Linked DNA regions of Homo sapiens. The protein of the gene in region 1 purifies or fractionates together with the protein of each later gene. This does not show direct contact. Each region holds a gene or a part of one and is shown in the gene's direction. Other genes may lie near its edges.

Region 1 (3,500 bases):
ACTCCCCAAAGCAATCTACAGATTCAATGCTATTTCTATGAAGCTACCAATGGCATTTTTCACAGAATCAGAAAAAACTATTCTAAAATTCATATGGAAGTAATAAAGTAATAAAGAGCCCAAATAGGCAAAGTAATCCCAAGAAAAAAGAACAAAGCCAGAAGCATCACATTACCTGGCTTCAAACTATATTGTAAGGCTACAGTAAGCAAAACAGCATGGTACTGGTACAAAAACAGACACATAGACCAATGGAACAGAAGAAAGAACCCAGAAATAAAGCTGCATTCCTATAGCCAGCTGACCTTCAACAAAGTAAACCAAAATCAGCAATGGGGAAAGGACTCTCTACTCAATAAATGGTGCTGGGATAACTGGCTATCCATATGCAGAAGAATGAAACTGGACCCCTACCTTGTTTGATATGGAAAAATTAACTCAAGATGGATCAGAGAATTAAATGTAAGACTTCAAACTATAAGAATCTTAGAAGAAAACATAGGAAACACCATTCTGGACATTGACTTTGGGAAAAATTTATGACTAAGTCCTCAAAAGCAATGACAACAAAAGCAAAAATTGCAAGTGAGACCTAATTAAACTGAGTAGCTTTTGCACAACAAAAGAAACTATCAACAGAGTAAACAGACAACCTACAGAGTGGGAGAAAATATTCACAAACTGTGCATCTGACAGAGGTCTAATATCTAGAATCTATAAGGAACTTAAACAATTGAACAAGTAAAACACCAATAACCCCATTAAAAATAGGCAAAAGAAAGACATGAATGGACAGTTCTCAAAAGAAGACATACAATTAAAAAAAAGAAGACATACAAGCAGCAAAAAAAAAAAAAAAAACATGAAAAAATGCTCCACATCACTAATTACCAGAGAAAGGCAAATCAAAAATCACGAGATACCATCTCATATAAGTCAGAATAACTATTATTAAAATTTAAAAATATTTGGGTGAGGCTGCAGAGAAATGGGAATGCTTATAAGCATATATACACTGTTGGGAATGTAAATTAGTTCAGTCACTGTGGAAAGCAGTTTGGAGGTCTCTCAGAGAGCTTAAAACAGAACTACCACTTGACCCAGCAATCCCACTACTGGGCATATATCCTCAAAAAACAAATTATTCTACCAGAAAGACACATGCACCCGCATGTTAATTGCAGCACTATTCACAATAGCAAAGACATGGAATCAACCTAGGTGCCCATCAACAGTGAATTGGATGAAAAAAAAAAAGGTACAAATACACTATGGAATACTATATAGCCAAAAAAAGAACAAAATCATTTCCTTTGCAGCAACATGGATGCAGTTAGAAGCCATTATCCTAAATGGATTAATGCAGTATCAGAAAATCAGATACCACATGTTCTCGCTTATAAGTGGGAGCTAAACAACAGGTACTAATAGACATAAAGATGGCAACAATTGATACTGGGACTGCTAGAGTGGAGAGGGAGGTTGGGGGAAAGGGTTGACAAATGAACTGTGGGGTACTATGCTCAGTACCTAGGTGACAGGATCAACTGTACTCCAAACCTTATCATTACACAATATAACCAGGTAACAATGTGTATATGTACCCCCTGAATCTAAAATAAATGTTGAAAAACTCTCAAACCCAAATTAAATATACATAAATAAATTTACATTTTATTAAAAATGTATTACTACTCTAGATTTGCCTTACAGGAAAGTCAAAACTTATTTTAAGCTTAGCCTATGATTATATACATTTGTACGTACAAGTTTAAAAATATCCAAAGTCATAAAATTTAACAAAAAAGGTAAAAGCTACTTACTGGGCATTTATGCTTCACAAACTAGTATTAACAGCACCTTTCACTTTGAAATACTTTTTTTCGAAGTGAAAAACACATTTTTCTTATTTATCTCAGCCTCTTATCACACTTTTGTTTGGTTGCACAAGAATGTCATCACATTCTTTACTCATGGCAATGACATTGATTCTGCTGATTTAACACCTTTGCTTTACTGAAAGAGTATTGGTGACTAAAGGAGGACCATTATTGCTCTTTAAAAAATGTTTAATCATAAATAGATGTGTCCAGGGATATCTTAACTGTATGAGGTATGATAGGCTTGAAATTATAAAGCACAGCTTTGGAATACACCCCTCCACAATCCTTAACCACTCAGAAAGTCTTACGTTAATACATATTATTTTTTGAACTTTATGAAAACTGCATTGAATAATTATCACACTTCCTACACACCAACTTGTATTTAATGATTTATGGAAACATTACTAAGACAAAAGAAGGACATAGCCTTCACTTGACTAATTCTAAGACCAAGGCTCCCTATGTTTTAACTTCTGTAAACTCTCACTGCCTGAATAAATACCTTAGGTATAATGAAGCGTAGGCAAATAATAGATTATAAATAAGTTGACCGAGGTCAAGAGAGGCATTTAACCTATTTAACCTATTTGGGAAAACAACCCATTTTCAAATTTTTAACAGCAGTAAATGGTAGAAAAGTATACTAATTAGAAATAATCATTTACTAAAGCAAATCTTTGAGGAAGTCTAATGAGTAGTTTCTTTAGCCAATTGCTTGTATTAAAGGACTGGAATAACTTTTGAATATTCAGAATTTTCACAAGTTCAGACTTCCTTCAGTTGGCCCTATTTAATGAGTTTTTATGCTGCATCTTGTATTTCTGAAAATTGAGTTTTTGTTTGTTTTGAGGCTGAGAATTTTGAGAACTGTCATTGTCAGACCAATGTCTCAGGAATCATTAGGAAAACAACTCGGGGTGGGAAGGTGGTTAGATGATGTCGTTGAGTGATCTTTATGGAAGGGAAATTTGTGAGAGATTTTCTAAATAAAGATGCAAGATTTTCATTGCTTTAGATATGCTAAATTTTTTTCCTGGAATCAGTCAGACCTTGAGATAGCTCTTTACCCAGCTTGTGTTATTTTGGTCCCTGCAGAAGTGCTTTTGCTGATTTGTGCTTACCTGTTATAATATTGGCTGGCATTGAGAAACTTGACATTGTATTAAGTTCAAGGATGTTATTTCTCTCTCTTTTTTATTATACTTTAAGTTGTGGGGTACATGTGCAGAATGTGCAGGTTTGTTGCATAGGTGTACACATGCCATAGTGGTTTACTGCACCCATCAACCCGTCATTTACATTAGGTATTTCTCCTAATGCTGTCCCTCCTCTAGCCCCCCAGCCCCCCAGCCCCCGACAAGCCCCAGTGTTTGATGTTCCCCTCCCTGTGTCCATGTGTTCTCATTGATCAACTCCCACTTATGAGTGAGAACATGCGGTGTTTGTTTTTTTGTTCTTGTGTTAGTTTGCTGAGAATGATGGTTTCCAGTGTCATCCATGTCCCTGCAAATGACATGAACTCAAGGGATGTTATTTCTTGTGCTGATCACTGTTTTTAGAATCTGTATTATGAGGATCTCATGGATAAATTTCTCTGAAATGTCGCTAGCCAAA
Region 2 (3,500 bases), about 50 Mb from region 1:
AAGGATTACCTGATATGGATTCTTCGATCCTTATACACCACAATGGAGGTATCCCAGCCAACAAAAAACTCTCCACAACTTTGCCAGAGATAGAATACCGAGAAAAAGGGAAAGAAAAGGACAAGGATGCCAAAAAACACAACCTTGGAATAAATAACAACAATATTCTACAACCTGTAGACTCTAAAATACAAGAGATTGAGTATATGGAAAACCATATCAATAGTAAAAGATTAAATAATGATCTTGTGGGAAGTACAGAAAATCTCTTGAAAGAGGACTCATGCACTGCTTCCTCAAAAAATTACAAAAATGCCAGTGGAGTTGTGAACTCTTCACCTCGAAGTCATAGCGCCACAAATGGGAGCATTCCTTCCTCATCTAGTAAAAATGAGAAGAAGCAGAAATGCACTAGCAAGAGCCCAAGTACACACAAGGACTTAATGGAAAACTGTATTCCTAATAACCAGCTAAGCAAACCAGACGCACTGGTCAGGTAAGTGCACATGCTGCATCCTTACTAACACTTTCCAGTAAACTTGACATACTCTTGACATACTCCCATATGGGCCTGTAGGGATTGTTTGTAATCAGATATTGTGACTAGTGACGTGTGGTGTTTTACATGAGTTTGTTGGCCACCTTGTGTTATTGTGTTGAAGCATTGATTTCAGCTCTTTGCAGTGTTCTGAATAATGAGTGACACTGATTACTTCCCACATGTGACAAATTGACCTGTAACTTGATTCTTCTAGTCGTGTTGTAAGGCACTTCTTTGGTCCTTGTCCTTTTCTGTTTGCATGTCCAGAGTTCTCTTGGCGTAAACACAAAAAGAAGAGTTTGTGCTTGTTCACGCAAATCTCTGTCAAACAGATATACATTGCAGGAGAGGGGTGAGAAAGTTGTCCTTACTACTTTGTGCTTGTTTTGTTTTTCTGTTTGTTTTTCTGCACTTAGAATATGAATTATCCTAGATAACTCTGGGAAAGTTAGATTTGAAAAGCAATCTCTTTCACAAAAATCCATGGAGAAACAGTGTTAGACACAAAGTTTAATTAGGAATGTTGCTTTTCTCATTTTAATTAAAAGAATTTTTTTTTTTTTTTGAGACGGAGTCTTGCTCTATTGCCCAGGCTGGCACGATCTCGGCTCACTGCAACCTCCGCCTCCTGGCTCCAAGTGATTCTCCTGCCTCAGCCTCCCAACTAACTGGGATTATAGGTGCTTGCCGCCACGCCAGGCTAATTTTTTTGTATTTTTAATAGTGACAGGATTTCACCATGTTGCCCAGGCTGGTCTCAAACTCCTGACCTCAGGTGATCCACCTGCTTCGGCCTCCCAAAGTCCTGGGATTACAGATGTGAGCCACCGTGCCCGGCCATAAAAGAATAACATTGTTTTATTACATTGACTGGCTCAGACTTAATTTTACTATATTTTATATGGCTTATGTTAGGCAAACACAAATATGTTCCTTTCACCTCAGATCTTTAATTTGGAAACTGAGATCTAAACTGGAGCTTTTTTGTGTGTATGTAACTCAAGAGGGCAATTGAAACTCTCCCCTTCCAGTAAGTTATATTCTTCTTTCTCTGGCTTGCTTTAGGCAGCCCTTTAGGCAGTCCGTTTATTCTAGGAGGGAGGCTTTCCAGCATTATAAATGGTATGAACTAGATTATTAATTTGTTTTAATTTTCTGATTGGCAGTTAAACTAAGCGAGGTATATTTGGGTTCTACTAATACAGGCTCTAGAGGTTTCACAGCCCCCAGGCTACTTTTGGAAGTGTGCTATTTGCTGTTGCCTGGCTGGCATCCATATCCATTTGTTAGGACATTCTGGCCATTGTGCCCAGCAGAAAAAACACGTGGAAGAGAACTCTCCTCCAGATGCCCATGGGAGAAAGACCAATTAGTTTACCTTCTATTTCAGAGGAATATCCCACAAATTCACTAAATGCTATACACAAAACATCTGTCACAGCTATTTACCATCCTTTCTCCTACACATGTTTTTTTTTTTTTTTGAGATAGGATCTCACTGTTTTGCCCAGGCTTGAGTGTAGTGGCGTGATCACAGCTAACTGTAGACTCTACCTCCCCAGGCTCAGGTTTTCCTCCCACCTCATCCTCCTGTGTAGCTGGGACTACAGGCGCATGCCACTATGCCTGGCTAATTTTTTAATTTTTTTGTAGAGAGGAGATCTCGCCATGTTGCCCAGGCTGACACAAGTTTAGTAATAGCGGTCAAGCTATTACTAAATGATGGTTTGTGATATTGATTGACTCTACTATCTGATCTGCTTTTAGTAGAGAAGTTCAAGGACCCAGATGGCTAATTGTCCAGTAAGCTGGAGATGATGACATGGGTCCAGTGCCCCCGTGCCTACACCTAAGGAGTATGCTGCTTCTTGTGGTCACTAATGCGTACTCTGCCTTGACCTACAGTGTCCCAGGTATTACTCTGTTTTGGAGAACTACTTACTATCAAATGACTAATAGACAACATTATATTTAAGTAGGTTTATAAGCTCCCATGGTATTATTTTCAACTTTTAATGTTATAAAAAATAAGGGGATCGATAGACTGGATTAAGAAAATGTGGCACATATACACCATGGAATACTATGCAGCCATAAAAAATGAAGAGTTCATGTCCTTTGTAGGGACATGGATGAAACTGGAAACCATCATTCTCAGCAAACTATCGCAAGGACAAAAAACCAAACACCACATGTTTTCACTCATAGGTGGGAATTGAACAAGGAGAACACATGGACACAGGAAGGGGAACATCACACTCCGGGGACTGTTGTGGGGTGGGGGGAGGGGGGAGGGATAGCATTAGGAGATACACCTAATACTACATGACGAGTTAATGGGTGCAGCACACCAACATGGCACGTGTATACATATGTAACAAACCTGCACATTGTGCACATGTACCCTAAAACTTAAAGTATAATAATAATAAAATAAAATAAAGAATACTATGCAAAGAATATAGGTTTTTAAATCACACCTTGGTTGGATCCTGGACCTTCTATTTACTGTCTGAGTGGCCTTGGGCATATTATTTGACCCCTCTGATTTCCATTTCTTGGAAAGTTGAGATAAAACTAATAGAATAGTGCTGTTGTTAAGGTACAGGCATTCAATAAATGTTGGTTCTCTTCCTTCCCCCCCCTCAAAAAAAAGGGTGATGTAAATATCCAATAATGGGAGAAATTTAAAATAAATTATGGTCCATCCATTTGATAAACTTTTCATATAGATACTATAAAATCATACTTTCAAGCCATATTAAAGAATATGGGGAAGTATGTCAAAGCATTTCATGAATAAAGGAGAAAGCAATTTAATGAAAAACAATTTTTTCTAATATACATAGAAAAATGATTTAAAGGGAAAATAACCAAATTGTTAACAATAGTTGTTATCCCTTGATAGTATTGGGCATTTATTTTTTCTTTTTATTTTCATACATTTTCACATTTTTCT
Region 3 (3,500 bases), about 60 Mb from region 1:
ACAGTTTTTGCCCTGAGTAACTGGAAGGATGGAGCTGTCATCAACTGAAATGGCAAAGACGTGGGTAGGACAGGTCTGTGGGAGGAGATTAGGGGTTCGTTTTTGGAAATGTTAAGCTTGAGAAGTCTAGTAGACATCCAAAAGAAAATGTACATTTATCGGCCTTTAATATTGAATGTGTCTCCAGTGTTAGCAGAGTAACTGGCCCTCCAAATATATGGTTGGATGAAAGAACAAGAAAAGTTGTTCAAGTATTAAGTGAAATAAGTATGAGATGACCCCATTTTGTTTTATGTATATGCATACACACACACACACACACACACACACACACACACATTTGTAACTCTTCTTACATATTGCCAGATTGCTCTACAGAAAAACTGAACCAATCTAGAATTCCAGCAGTGAAAGAATGCTAGACAGTCTATTAGGAAAGACATCTCCTATGAGGTCGGGATTTCAATTTCACACCAAAAAATTACTTAGCACTTTTTCCAGCTGCCATGGAGACATAAAAAGGCTTCATTTGGATCTTCCATTCTTTTCAGGTGTAGGAATTGGCGTGGTCCATGCTGGGTATGAGAGACGCCTGGCCCATCACCTAGGGGCACACAGCACGCCCTCTATCCTAGGAATCATTAACGGGAAAATCTCCTTCTTCCACAATGCAGTTGTCCGTGAAAATCTGCGACAATTTGTAGAAAGTCTTCTTCCAGGGAACTTGGTGGAGAAAGTAAGTATCTGTCAAGGAAACTATGGCTGAGAAGTAGTTTAAGAGGTACCTAGGACTGTTAATTGCCCAGAACATTTTCTGTAGTCCTCTCAAACCTGAGTTTCATTGTGAGGAAGGCATGACACTTATTAATTAATTAATTACTCAAACTAAATCGTTTAAGTGAAGTCTGTAGGAGACTAATAATTGAAACAGATGAAGTACAGAGACTGAAAGAATTAATTCCTATTAATACCCATCTTGCAGAACTTACACTGTCATAGGAATCTGAGCCTAAAATGACAGTGCCTATTTTCTAAACAAAAAAATTAAATCACATGTTAGAAAGAATTAGGGATTTCTTTCTGGCTCATAAATTTGTTCATGTGAAGATATTTGTCTTTATGCAAATTTAATTATATTTGGTTATATGTTTAACGATCATATCTATGGAAAATGCCAGATTCCATGAAATCAAATATTATTTTTGAAACTTCAGAAACTTACAGTGACAATAATATGAATGAATTTCACAAAGAAAAGGTTGAAATAGAGAAGCCAGATAAAGTTCACATTGGTCTATTATTTCCATATTTAAGCACCTAATATGTTTTTTTCAATATCTTAATTTAGGGATCAAAGTAACTAGGAACGGACTCTCATTTTGCTTTAAATAATTCATTCTCTTAAGAATACAGGGAAAGTGAACATAAAAAATTTTCATCGTATTTCTACATGTGCTATTCCTAGACTGTCCTACTGGGATCATTATCTATAGGAGAAATATTTGTTGGAATTAACTTAAAAGTTTGTCAGAGAATATTGGAGGCTTCTAAAATGGTGATAGATTGTCCTGATAGATCCTCAAACATTTACATAAAATATCTCTTCTGTGCCCGGCATAGATTAACATAGCCGTTTCAAGCAGCTCCCAAGCGGGTGGTTATTTCCAGTATGTTGGAGCCCATCGTAATGAGTTGGGAAAGGCTTCCTGGCAGAAGTGACCCTTGGACCAGGTTGGGTTGCAGGCAGGCAGAAATCTGGAGACATGAAATAGCCCGCTTTGTAAGAAGTTTTCACTGGTGAGCAGCAGAGGAGGGGGATGGAGAGGTTATTAGGAATCTCCCTGTGAGGGCCTCAGAGCACCTTCACGCTCCTTTAAGGAACTTGGGCCTTGGCCCACATGGAGCCGTTGTAGGGGTTTGAGCAGAAGAGTGAAATGATCAAATTTGAGTTTTATATAAATCATTCTAGATGCAGTATGGAAAGATAAACTTTTTTTAACGACTAAGAAAAATTTCTAGCTAGATAATTTATTCATGTTTTTAATTTCTCTCAGGAATATTTTAAGATATCAGTGGAGGAAAGTAACAATTCAGATAACAATAAATGAAATTATATAATGTATAGAGGGGGTGGACCAGCTTATTTTTATTTACGCCGTTTAAAAAGAGCAAGCTGGCCTGGAGTGGTGGCTCATACCTGTAATCCCAGCACTTTAGGAGGCTGAGGTGTGAGCATCGCTTGAGTCCATAAGTTCAAGACCAGCCTGGGCAACATACTGAGACCCAATCTCTACAAAAAATGCAAACATTAGCCAGGCATGGTGCCATGTACCTGTAGCTCCAGCTATTCAGGAGGCTGAGGTGGGAGGATCACTTGATCCTGGGAGGTTTGGGAGGTTGAGGGTGCAATGAGCCATGATCATGCCACTGCACTCTAGCCTGGGCAACAAAGCAAGACCCTGTCTCAGAAAAAAGGGTGAGGGGCAAGCTGGGAGACTGAGGTGTGATAGATAGATGGGAGACTGAGGCATGATAGATAGATGATAGATAGATAGATAGGTAGATAGATAGATATTGAAAGGGGCAGTTGTGTGTTATTTTCTGCTGGCTAGTATATTAAGAAGTATACTCTGTAATTAAGCAAGAACCAACTCTGGAAGCTCAGTTTTTATAATATGGTCAGTAATTGTTTCAGACAGGATTATGATTTCAGTCTGTAAGAGTTCAATGAAAATATGAAATCAATATCACCATTCTTTTAATAGCTTTAGCCAAATGAAGACAAAAAGATTAGTTATCTGCATTTTTATTTTTTGCAATCTTTTACACTTACTTGATTTGTTTATTTTCTCCTGACTGGAGTATAATACAATTGTTAAGAATTAAATATTGAGACTAACATTCTATTTTCAATTTAAGGTTACAAATAAAAATTACGTCAGATTCCTCTCTGGCTGGCAGCAAGAGAATAAGCCTCATGTCCTTCTGTTTGACCAAACGCCCATTGTGCCACTGTTATACAAGGTACTTTCTATGCTAGGATAATGGTTTCTTTTTCTTTTCTTTTCTTTTTTTTTTTTTTTTTTTAGCAGAAAGTAATCTCTGAGTTGGAACTTATAGCCTATTTGTCTTTTTTGTAAGAAACAGTTTCATCCATGAGAAATGTTTGAAGACCAGAAATTTTACATAACCATCATACATTGAGTACTGATTAATGCCAGTTACTGTGTTAGTGCTTTCTATGCACATATCATGTAATCCTCAGAAGAACCCAGTGATGGAGATACTATCCCTGTTTCTTTTTTTTTTTTTTTTGAGACAGAGTCTCGCTCTGTCGCCCAGGCTGGAGTGCAGTGGCGCGATCTCCTCGGCTCACTGCAGCCTCCATCTCCCAGGTTCAAGCGATTCTTCTGCCTCAGCCTCCCAAGTAGCTGGGACTACATGTGCGTGCTACCATGCCCAGCTAACGTTTCTATTTTTAGTAGAGACAGGGTTTCACC
Region 4 (3,267 bases), on another chromosome or scaffold:
TTAGTAGAGACAGGGTTTCGCCATGTTGGCCAGGTACCTGCCACCATGCCTGGCTAATTTTTGTAATTTTAGTAGAGATGAGGTTTCACCATGTTGGCCAGGCGGGTCTCAACTCCTGGCTTCAAGTGATCTTGAAGGCCCACCTTGGCCTCCCAAAGTGCTGGGATTACAGACGTGAGCCACCATGCCTGGCCTATCCTGCTTTTCTTGAGCAGAAGGTTCCCCACCTCAAGCCCCAGTCCCCACAGGCTGTGTGGACCACTCAGGTGGCGTCTCTCCATCCAGACAGGGTCTCCCCTCACTAAATGCTTGATTCACGCATGTTCAGTTCTGAGACATCTAATACTCGCCCTCTACCTTTCCCAAATGAGGACACAGAAGCCCAGAGAGGGGGAGGGACGTCACACCACTGGAAATGTCACACCTAGATTTGAACCCATTCTGTTGGGCTCTTTCGCCCCAGCCTCCGGCCCCCTCCCCGGGCTGCTCTCGCCAGGGCCTGGGACTCCAGGGGACAGACTTGCAGGCACCAAGTCTGATGGTTTCAGGACTCCGGGGGACCCCCATGTCCAATGCTGGGTCTCCCATTCAGGGTGAAGTTCCTGGTGATGAATGACGAAGGACCCGTGGCTGAAACCAAGTGGTCCAGCGACACTCGCCTGCAGCAAGGTAGGGGCCAGAGGCTCCGGTCAAACAGTAGGGGCAGGGGGCTGGGGCCTGGGGGTCCTGAGGACTGAGGATGGGCTGGGGGAACAGGTCAGCTCACCACTGAGTCAGAGGCAGCCAACCATCTTGCAATCTGCAGGCGCCCCTCCCCCAGCCACCCCCTTCCCCCAGGCCTGGGTGGTAGTAGGGGAGGCAGGGCGGTGATTGGTCTGGATTCTGCCCAAGGGCCCCTTCCGGTCAGGTAAAATTTCTTTTCCTGCCCGCCTGTGCGGCCCCCATCACTGCCCTCAGCCCAGGCACTTCGGGCTGTCCCCGGCCCCCAGAGCCCGGGCACCGTGGTCATCATCGCCATCCTGTCTATCCTCCTGGCCGTCCTCCTCACGGTCCTCCTGGCTGTGCTCATATACACCTGGTGAGTGGACCGGGCTGAGACCGCCCATGCCTCTTGGGAGGGGCGGGGCCCTTGGGCATTAACCCCTCCCTCTCTAGTTCCTCCCCGCCCGCCCCTGCCCACCTTCCAAGCGGGCACTGTGCACCCCCTGGTGGCAGCATCTGGGATTGCAAGTGGGTGCCGCCTGCGGACACCCCAGTCGGGGAGGCGCCCAAGGAGGAGGTGAATTGCTTTCACACCAAGCTCTGAGCATTGCCTCAAGACGCCATACAGGCCGGGTGCGGTGGCTCACGCCTGTAATCCCAGCACTTTGGGAGGCTGAGGCCCGCAGATCACCTGAGGTCAGGAGTTCAAGACCGGCCTGGCCAACATAGTGAAACCCCAGCTCTACTAAAAATACAAAAAATTAGCCGGGTGTGGTGGCACGTGCTTGTAATCCCAGCTACTCAGGAGGCTGAGGAAGGAGAATGGCTTGAACCTGGGAGGTGGAGGTTGCAGTGAGCTGAGATTGCATCACTGCACTCCAACCTGGGTGACAGAGTGAGACTCCATTTAAAAAAAAAAAGGGGGGGGTGTCAGGATTTCATACAGAGCTCAGGTGCCTGAGCCTGGGGCACAGAGAGTGTCCACAAGGCTTCCTAGAGAAAAGGGGAGACCTAGCCCTGTTGGGATTTGGGGAGGAGGGGGAGAGGGAGTGACTAAAAAGGGGGTGGGGAGGTGTGGGGGCAGGAGGGGCAGGAGGGGTGCATGCAGCCAGGCCAGGCCAGGGGCCCCAGGTGCCTAGCTGAGGAACTGGGCTGTATCCTGCAGCCTATGGGAGCCGGGAGTGGGTTTTGATCAGGGGAGACAGGCAGATAATGTTTGAGCGGGGTCCTGAGGTGTGGAGGGTGGAGGGGGAGAGTGATGGGGAGCAGGAGCAATGAGCTAGATTTGTGAGGTTTGAAGGAATCGCCTCAGTCCCTTTGGTTAATTCTGCCCAGCCAGTGGAGTCTCAGTTTCCCCTATGCGATGGGTCAGAGCATGCTAGCCAATGGCTGTGGGATCTCGGCCAGAGCCTTTCTTCAGCATCCATCATCTCTCCCTCTCTCCTCCCCTCCCAAGCTTCAACAGCTGCAGGAGCACTTCCCTATCAGGCCCAGAGGAGGCAGGGAGTGTGAGAAGATACACCACGCACCTCGCGTTCAGCACTCCTGCCGAGGGGGCTTCCTGAGGGGTTCCAGAGGGGCCCACGTGTCCCTCCACCTCCTCCCTGGCCCAGGCTGCAGAGCCTGAGCTGGGACACGCCCTGAAGCTTCTGGACCCTGAGAGAGATTGTTTCTTTTCTTTACTATTTTTTTTTTTTTTTTTTTGAGACGGAGTCTCACTCTGTCGCCAGGCTGGCGCGATCTTGGCTCACTGCAACCTCTGCCTCACGGGTTCAAGCGATTTTCCTGCTTCAGCCTCCTGAGTAGCTGGGACTACAGGCACACGCCACCATGCCCAGCTCATTTTTGTATTTTTAGTAGAGATGGGGTTTCACCATGTTGGCCAGGATGGCCTCCATCTCTTGACCTTGTGATCCGCCCGACTCGGCCTCCCAAAATGCTGGGATTACAGGCGTGAGCCATCAAGTCTGGCGAGAGAGATTGTTTCTAGATGAGGGTGGGGGCGGGTGTCCTTAGCCCAAAGCTTGTGCCAGTCTCTATCGGAAATAAATGCCCCCAAAACCTCCCTGCCTGTCCGTGACATCATACACCTGGGTAGTCTTTCTGCACCACTGCCCCTGGCTCCTCCTCCTGAGGAGGTCCCCAAGGGCGTGTAGGACCAGGGCAAGGCTCAGGATCCTAGAGAAATTGTCACCTGGGGCAGGACAGGCCTCTCTGCCAGCCTTACTGTCCCTATCTGTAAAATGAGGATGGTAACCCTGAACCCACAAGGCCACAGTAAGGCTAAACCAAGGTGAACATGCCTTGGGAACTGTGAAGACTGTGGACCCAAAGCCGGTTGCGGTGGCTCAGGCCTGTAATCCCAGCACTTTGGGAGGCTGAGGCAGGAGGATCACTTGAGCCCAGGAGTTCGAGACCAGCCTGGGCAACATGGTGAAACCCCATCTCTACAAAAATGACAAAAAATTAGCTGGGCTTGTTGGCGGACTGTGGACCTGAGATAGGTGCTCCTCTTGTCCTGCCCAGACAGCCTCCTGGTAACCAAAGGCCACGGGGCAGCATGGC

What was found.
Region 2: the proteins of SLC44A5 (region 1) and MACO1 purify together in Homo sapiens (affinity purification with mass spectrometry; one large-scale study listed by BioGRID and IntAct). This does not show direct contact.
Region 3: the proteins of SLC44A5 (region 1) and DNAJC16 purify together in Homo sapiens (affinity purification with mass spectrometry; one large-scale study listed by BioGRID and IntAct). This does not show direct contact.
Region 4: the proteins of SLC44A5 (region 1) and UPK3BL1 purify together in Homo sapiens (affinity purification with mass spectrometry; one large-scale study listed by BioGRID and IntAct). This does not show direct contact.

The regions. Positions count from the first base shown.
Region 1 is NC_000001.11:75,601,115-75,604,614, reverse strand, and holds part of SLC44A5 (choline transporter-like protein 5), read left to right. Parts: intron 1-3,500.
Region 2 is NC_000001.11:25,458,397-25,461,896, forward strand, and holds part of MACO1 (macoilin), read left to right. Parts: coding exon 1-496; intron 497-3,500. UniProt on the Homo sapiens protein: Plays a role in the regulation of neuronal activity.
Region 3 is NC_000001.11:15,543,848-15,547,347, forward strand, and holds part of DNAJC16 (dnaJ homolog subfamily C member 16 isoform 1 precursor), read left to right. Parts: intron 1-551; coding exon 552-736; intron 737-2,919; coding exon 2,920-3,024; intron 3,025-3,500. UniProt on the Homo sapiens protein: Plays an important role in regulating the size of autophagosomes during the formation process.
Region 4 is NC_000007.14:102,636,525-102,639,791, reverse strand, and holds the end of UPK3BL1 (uroplakin-3b-like protein 1 precursor), read left to right. Parts: intron 1-592; coding exon 593-669; intron 670-957; coding exon 958-1,078; intron 1,079-2,158; coding exon 2,159-2,267; 3' UTR 2,268-2,767; downstream 2,768-3,267.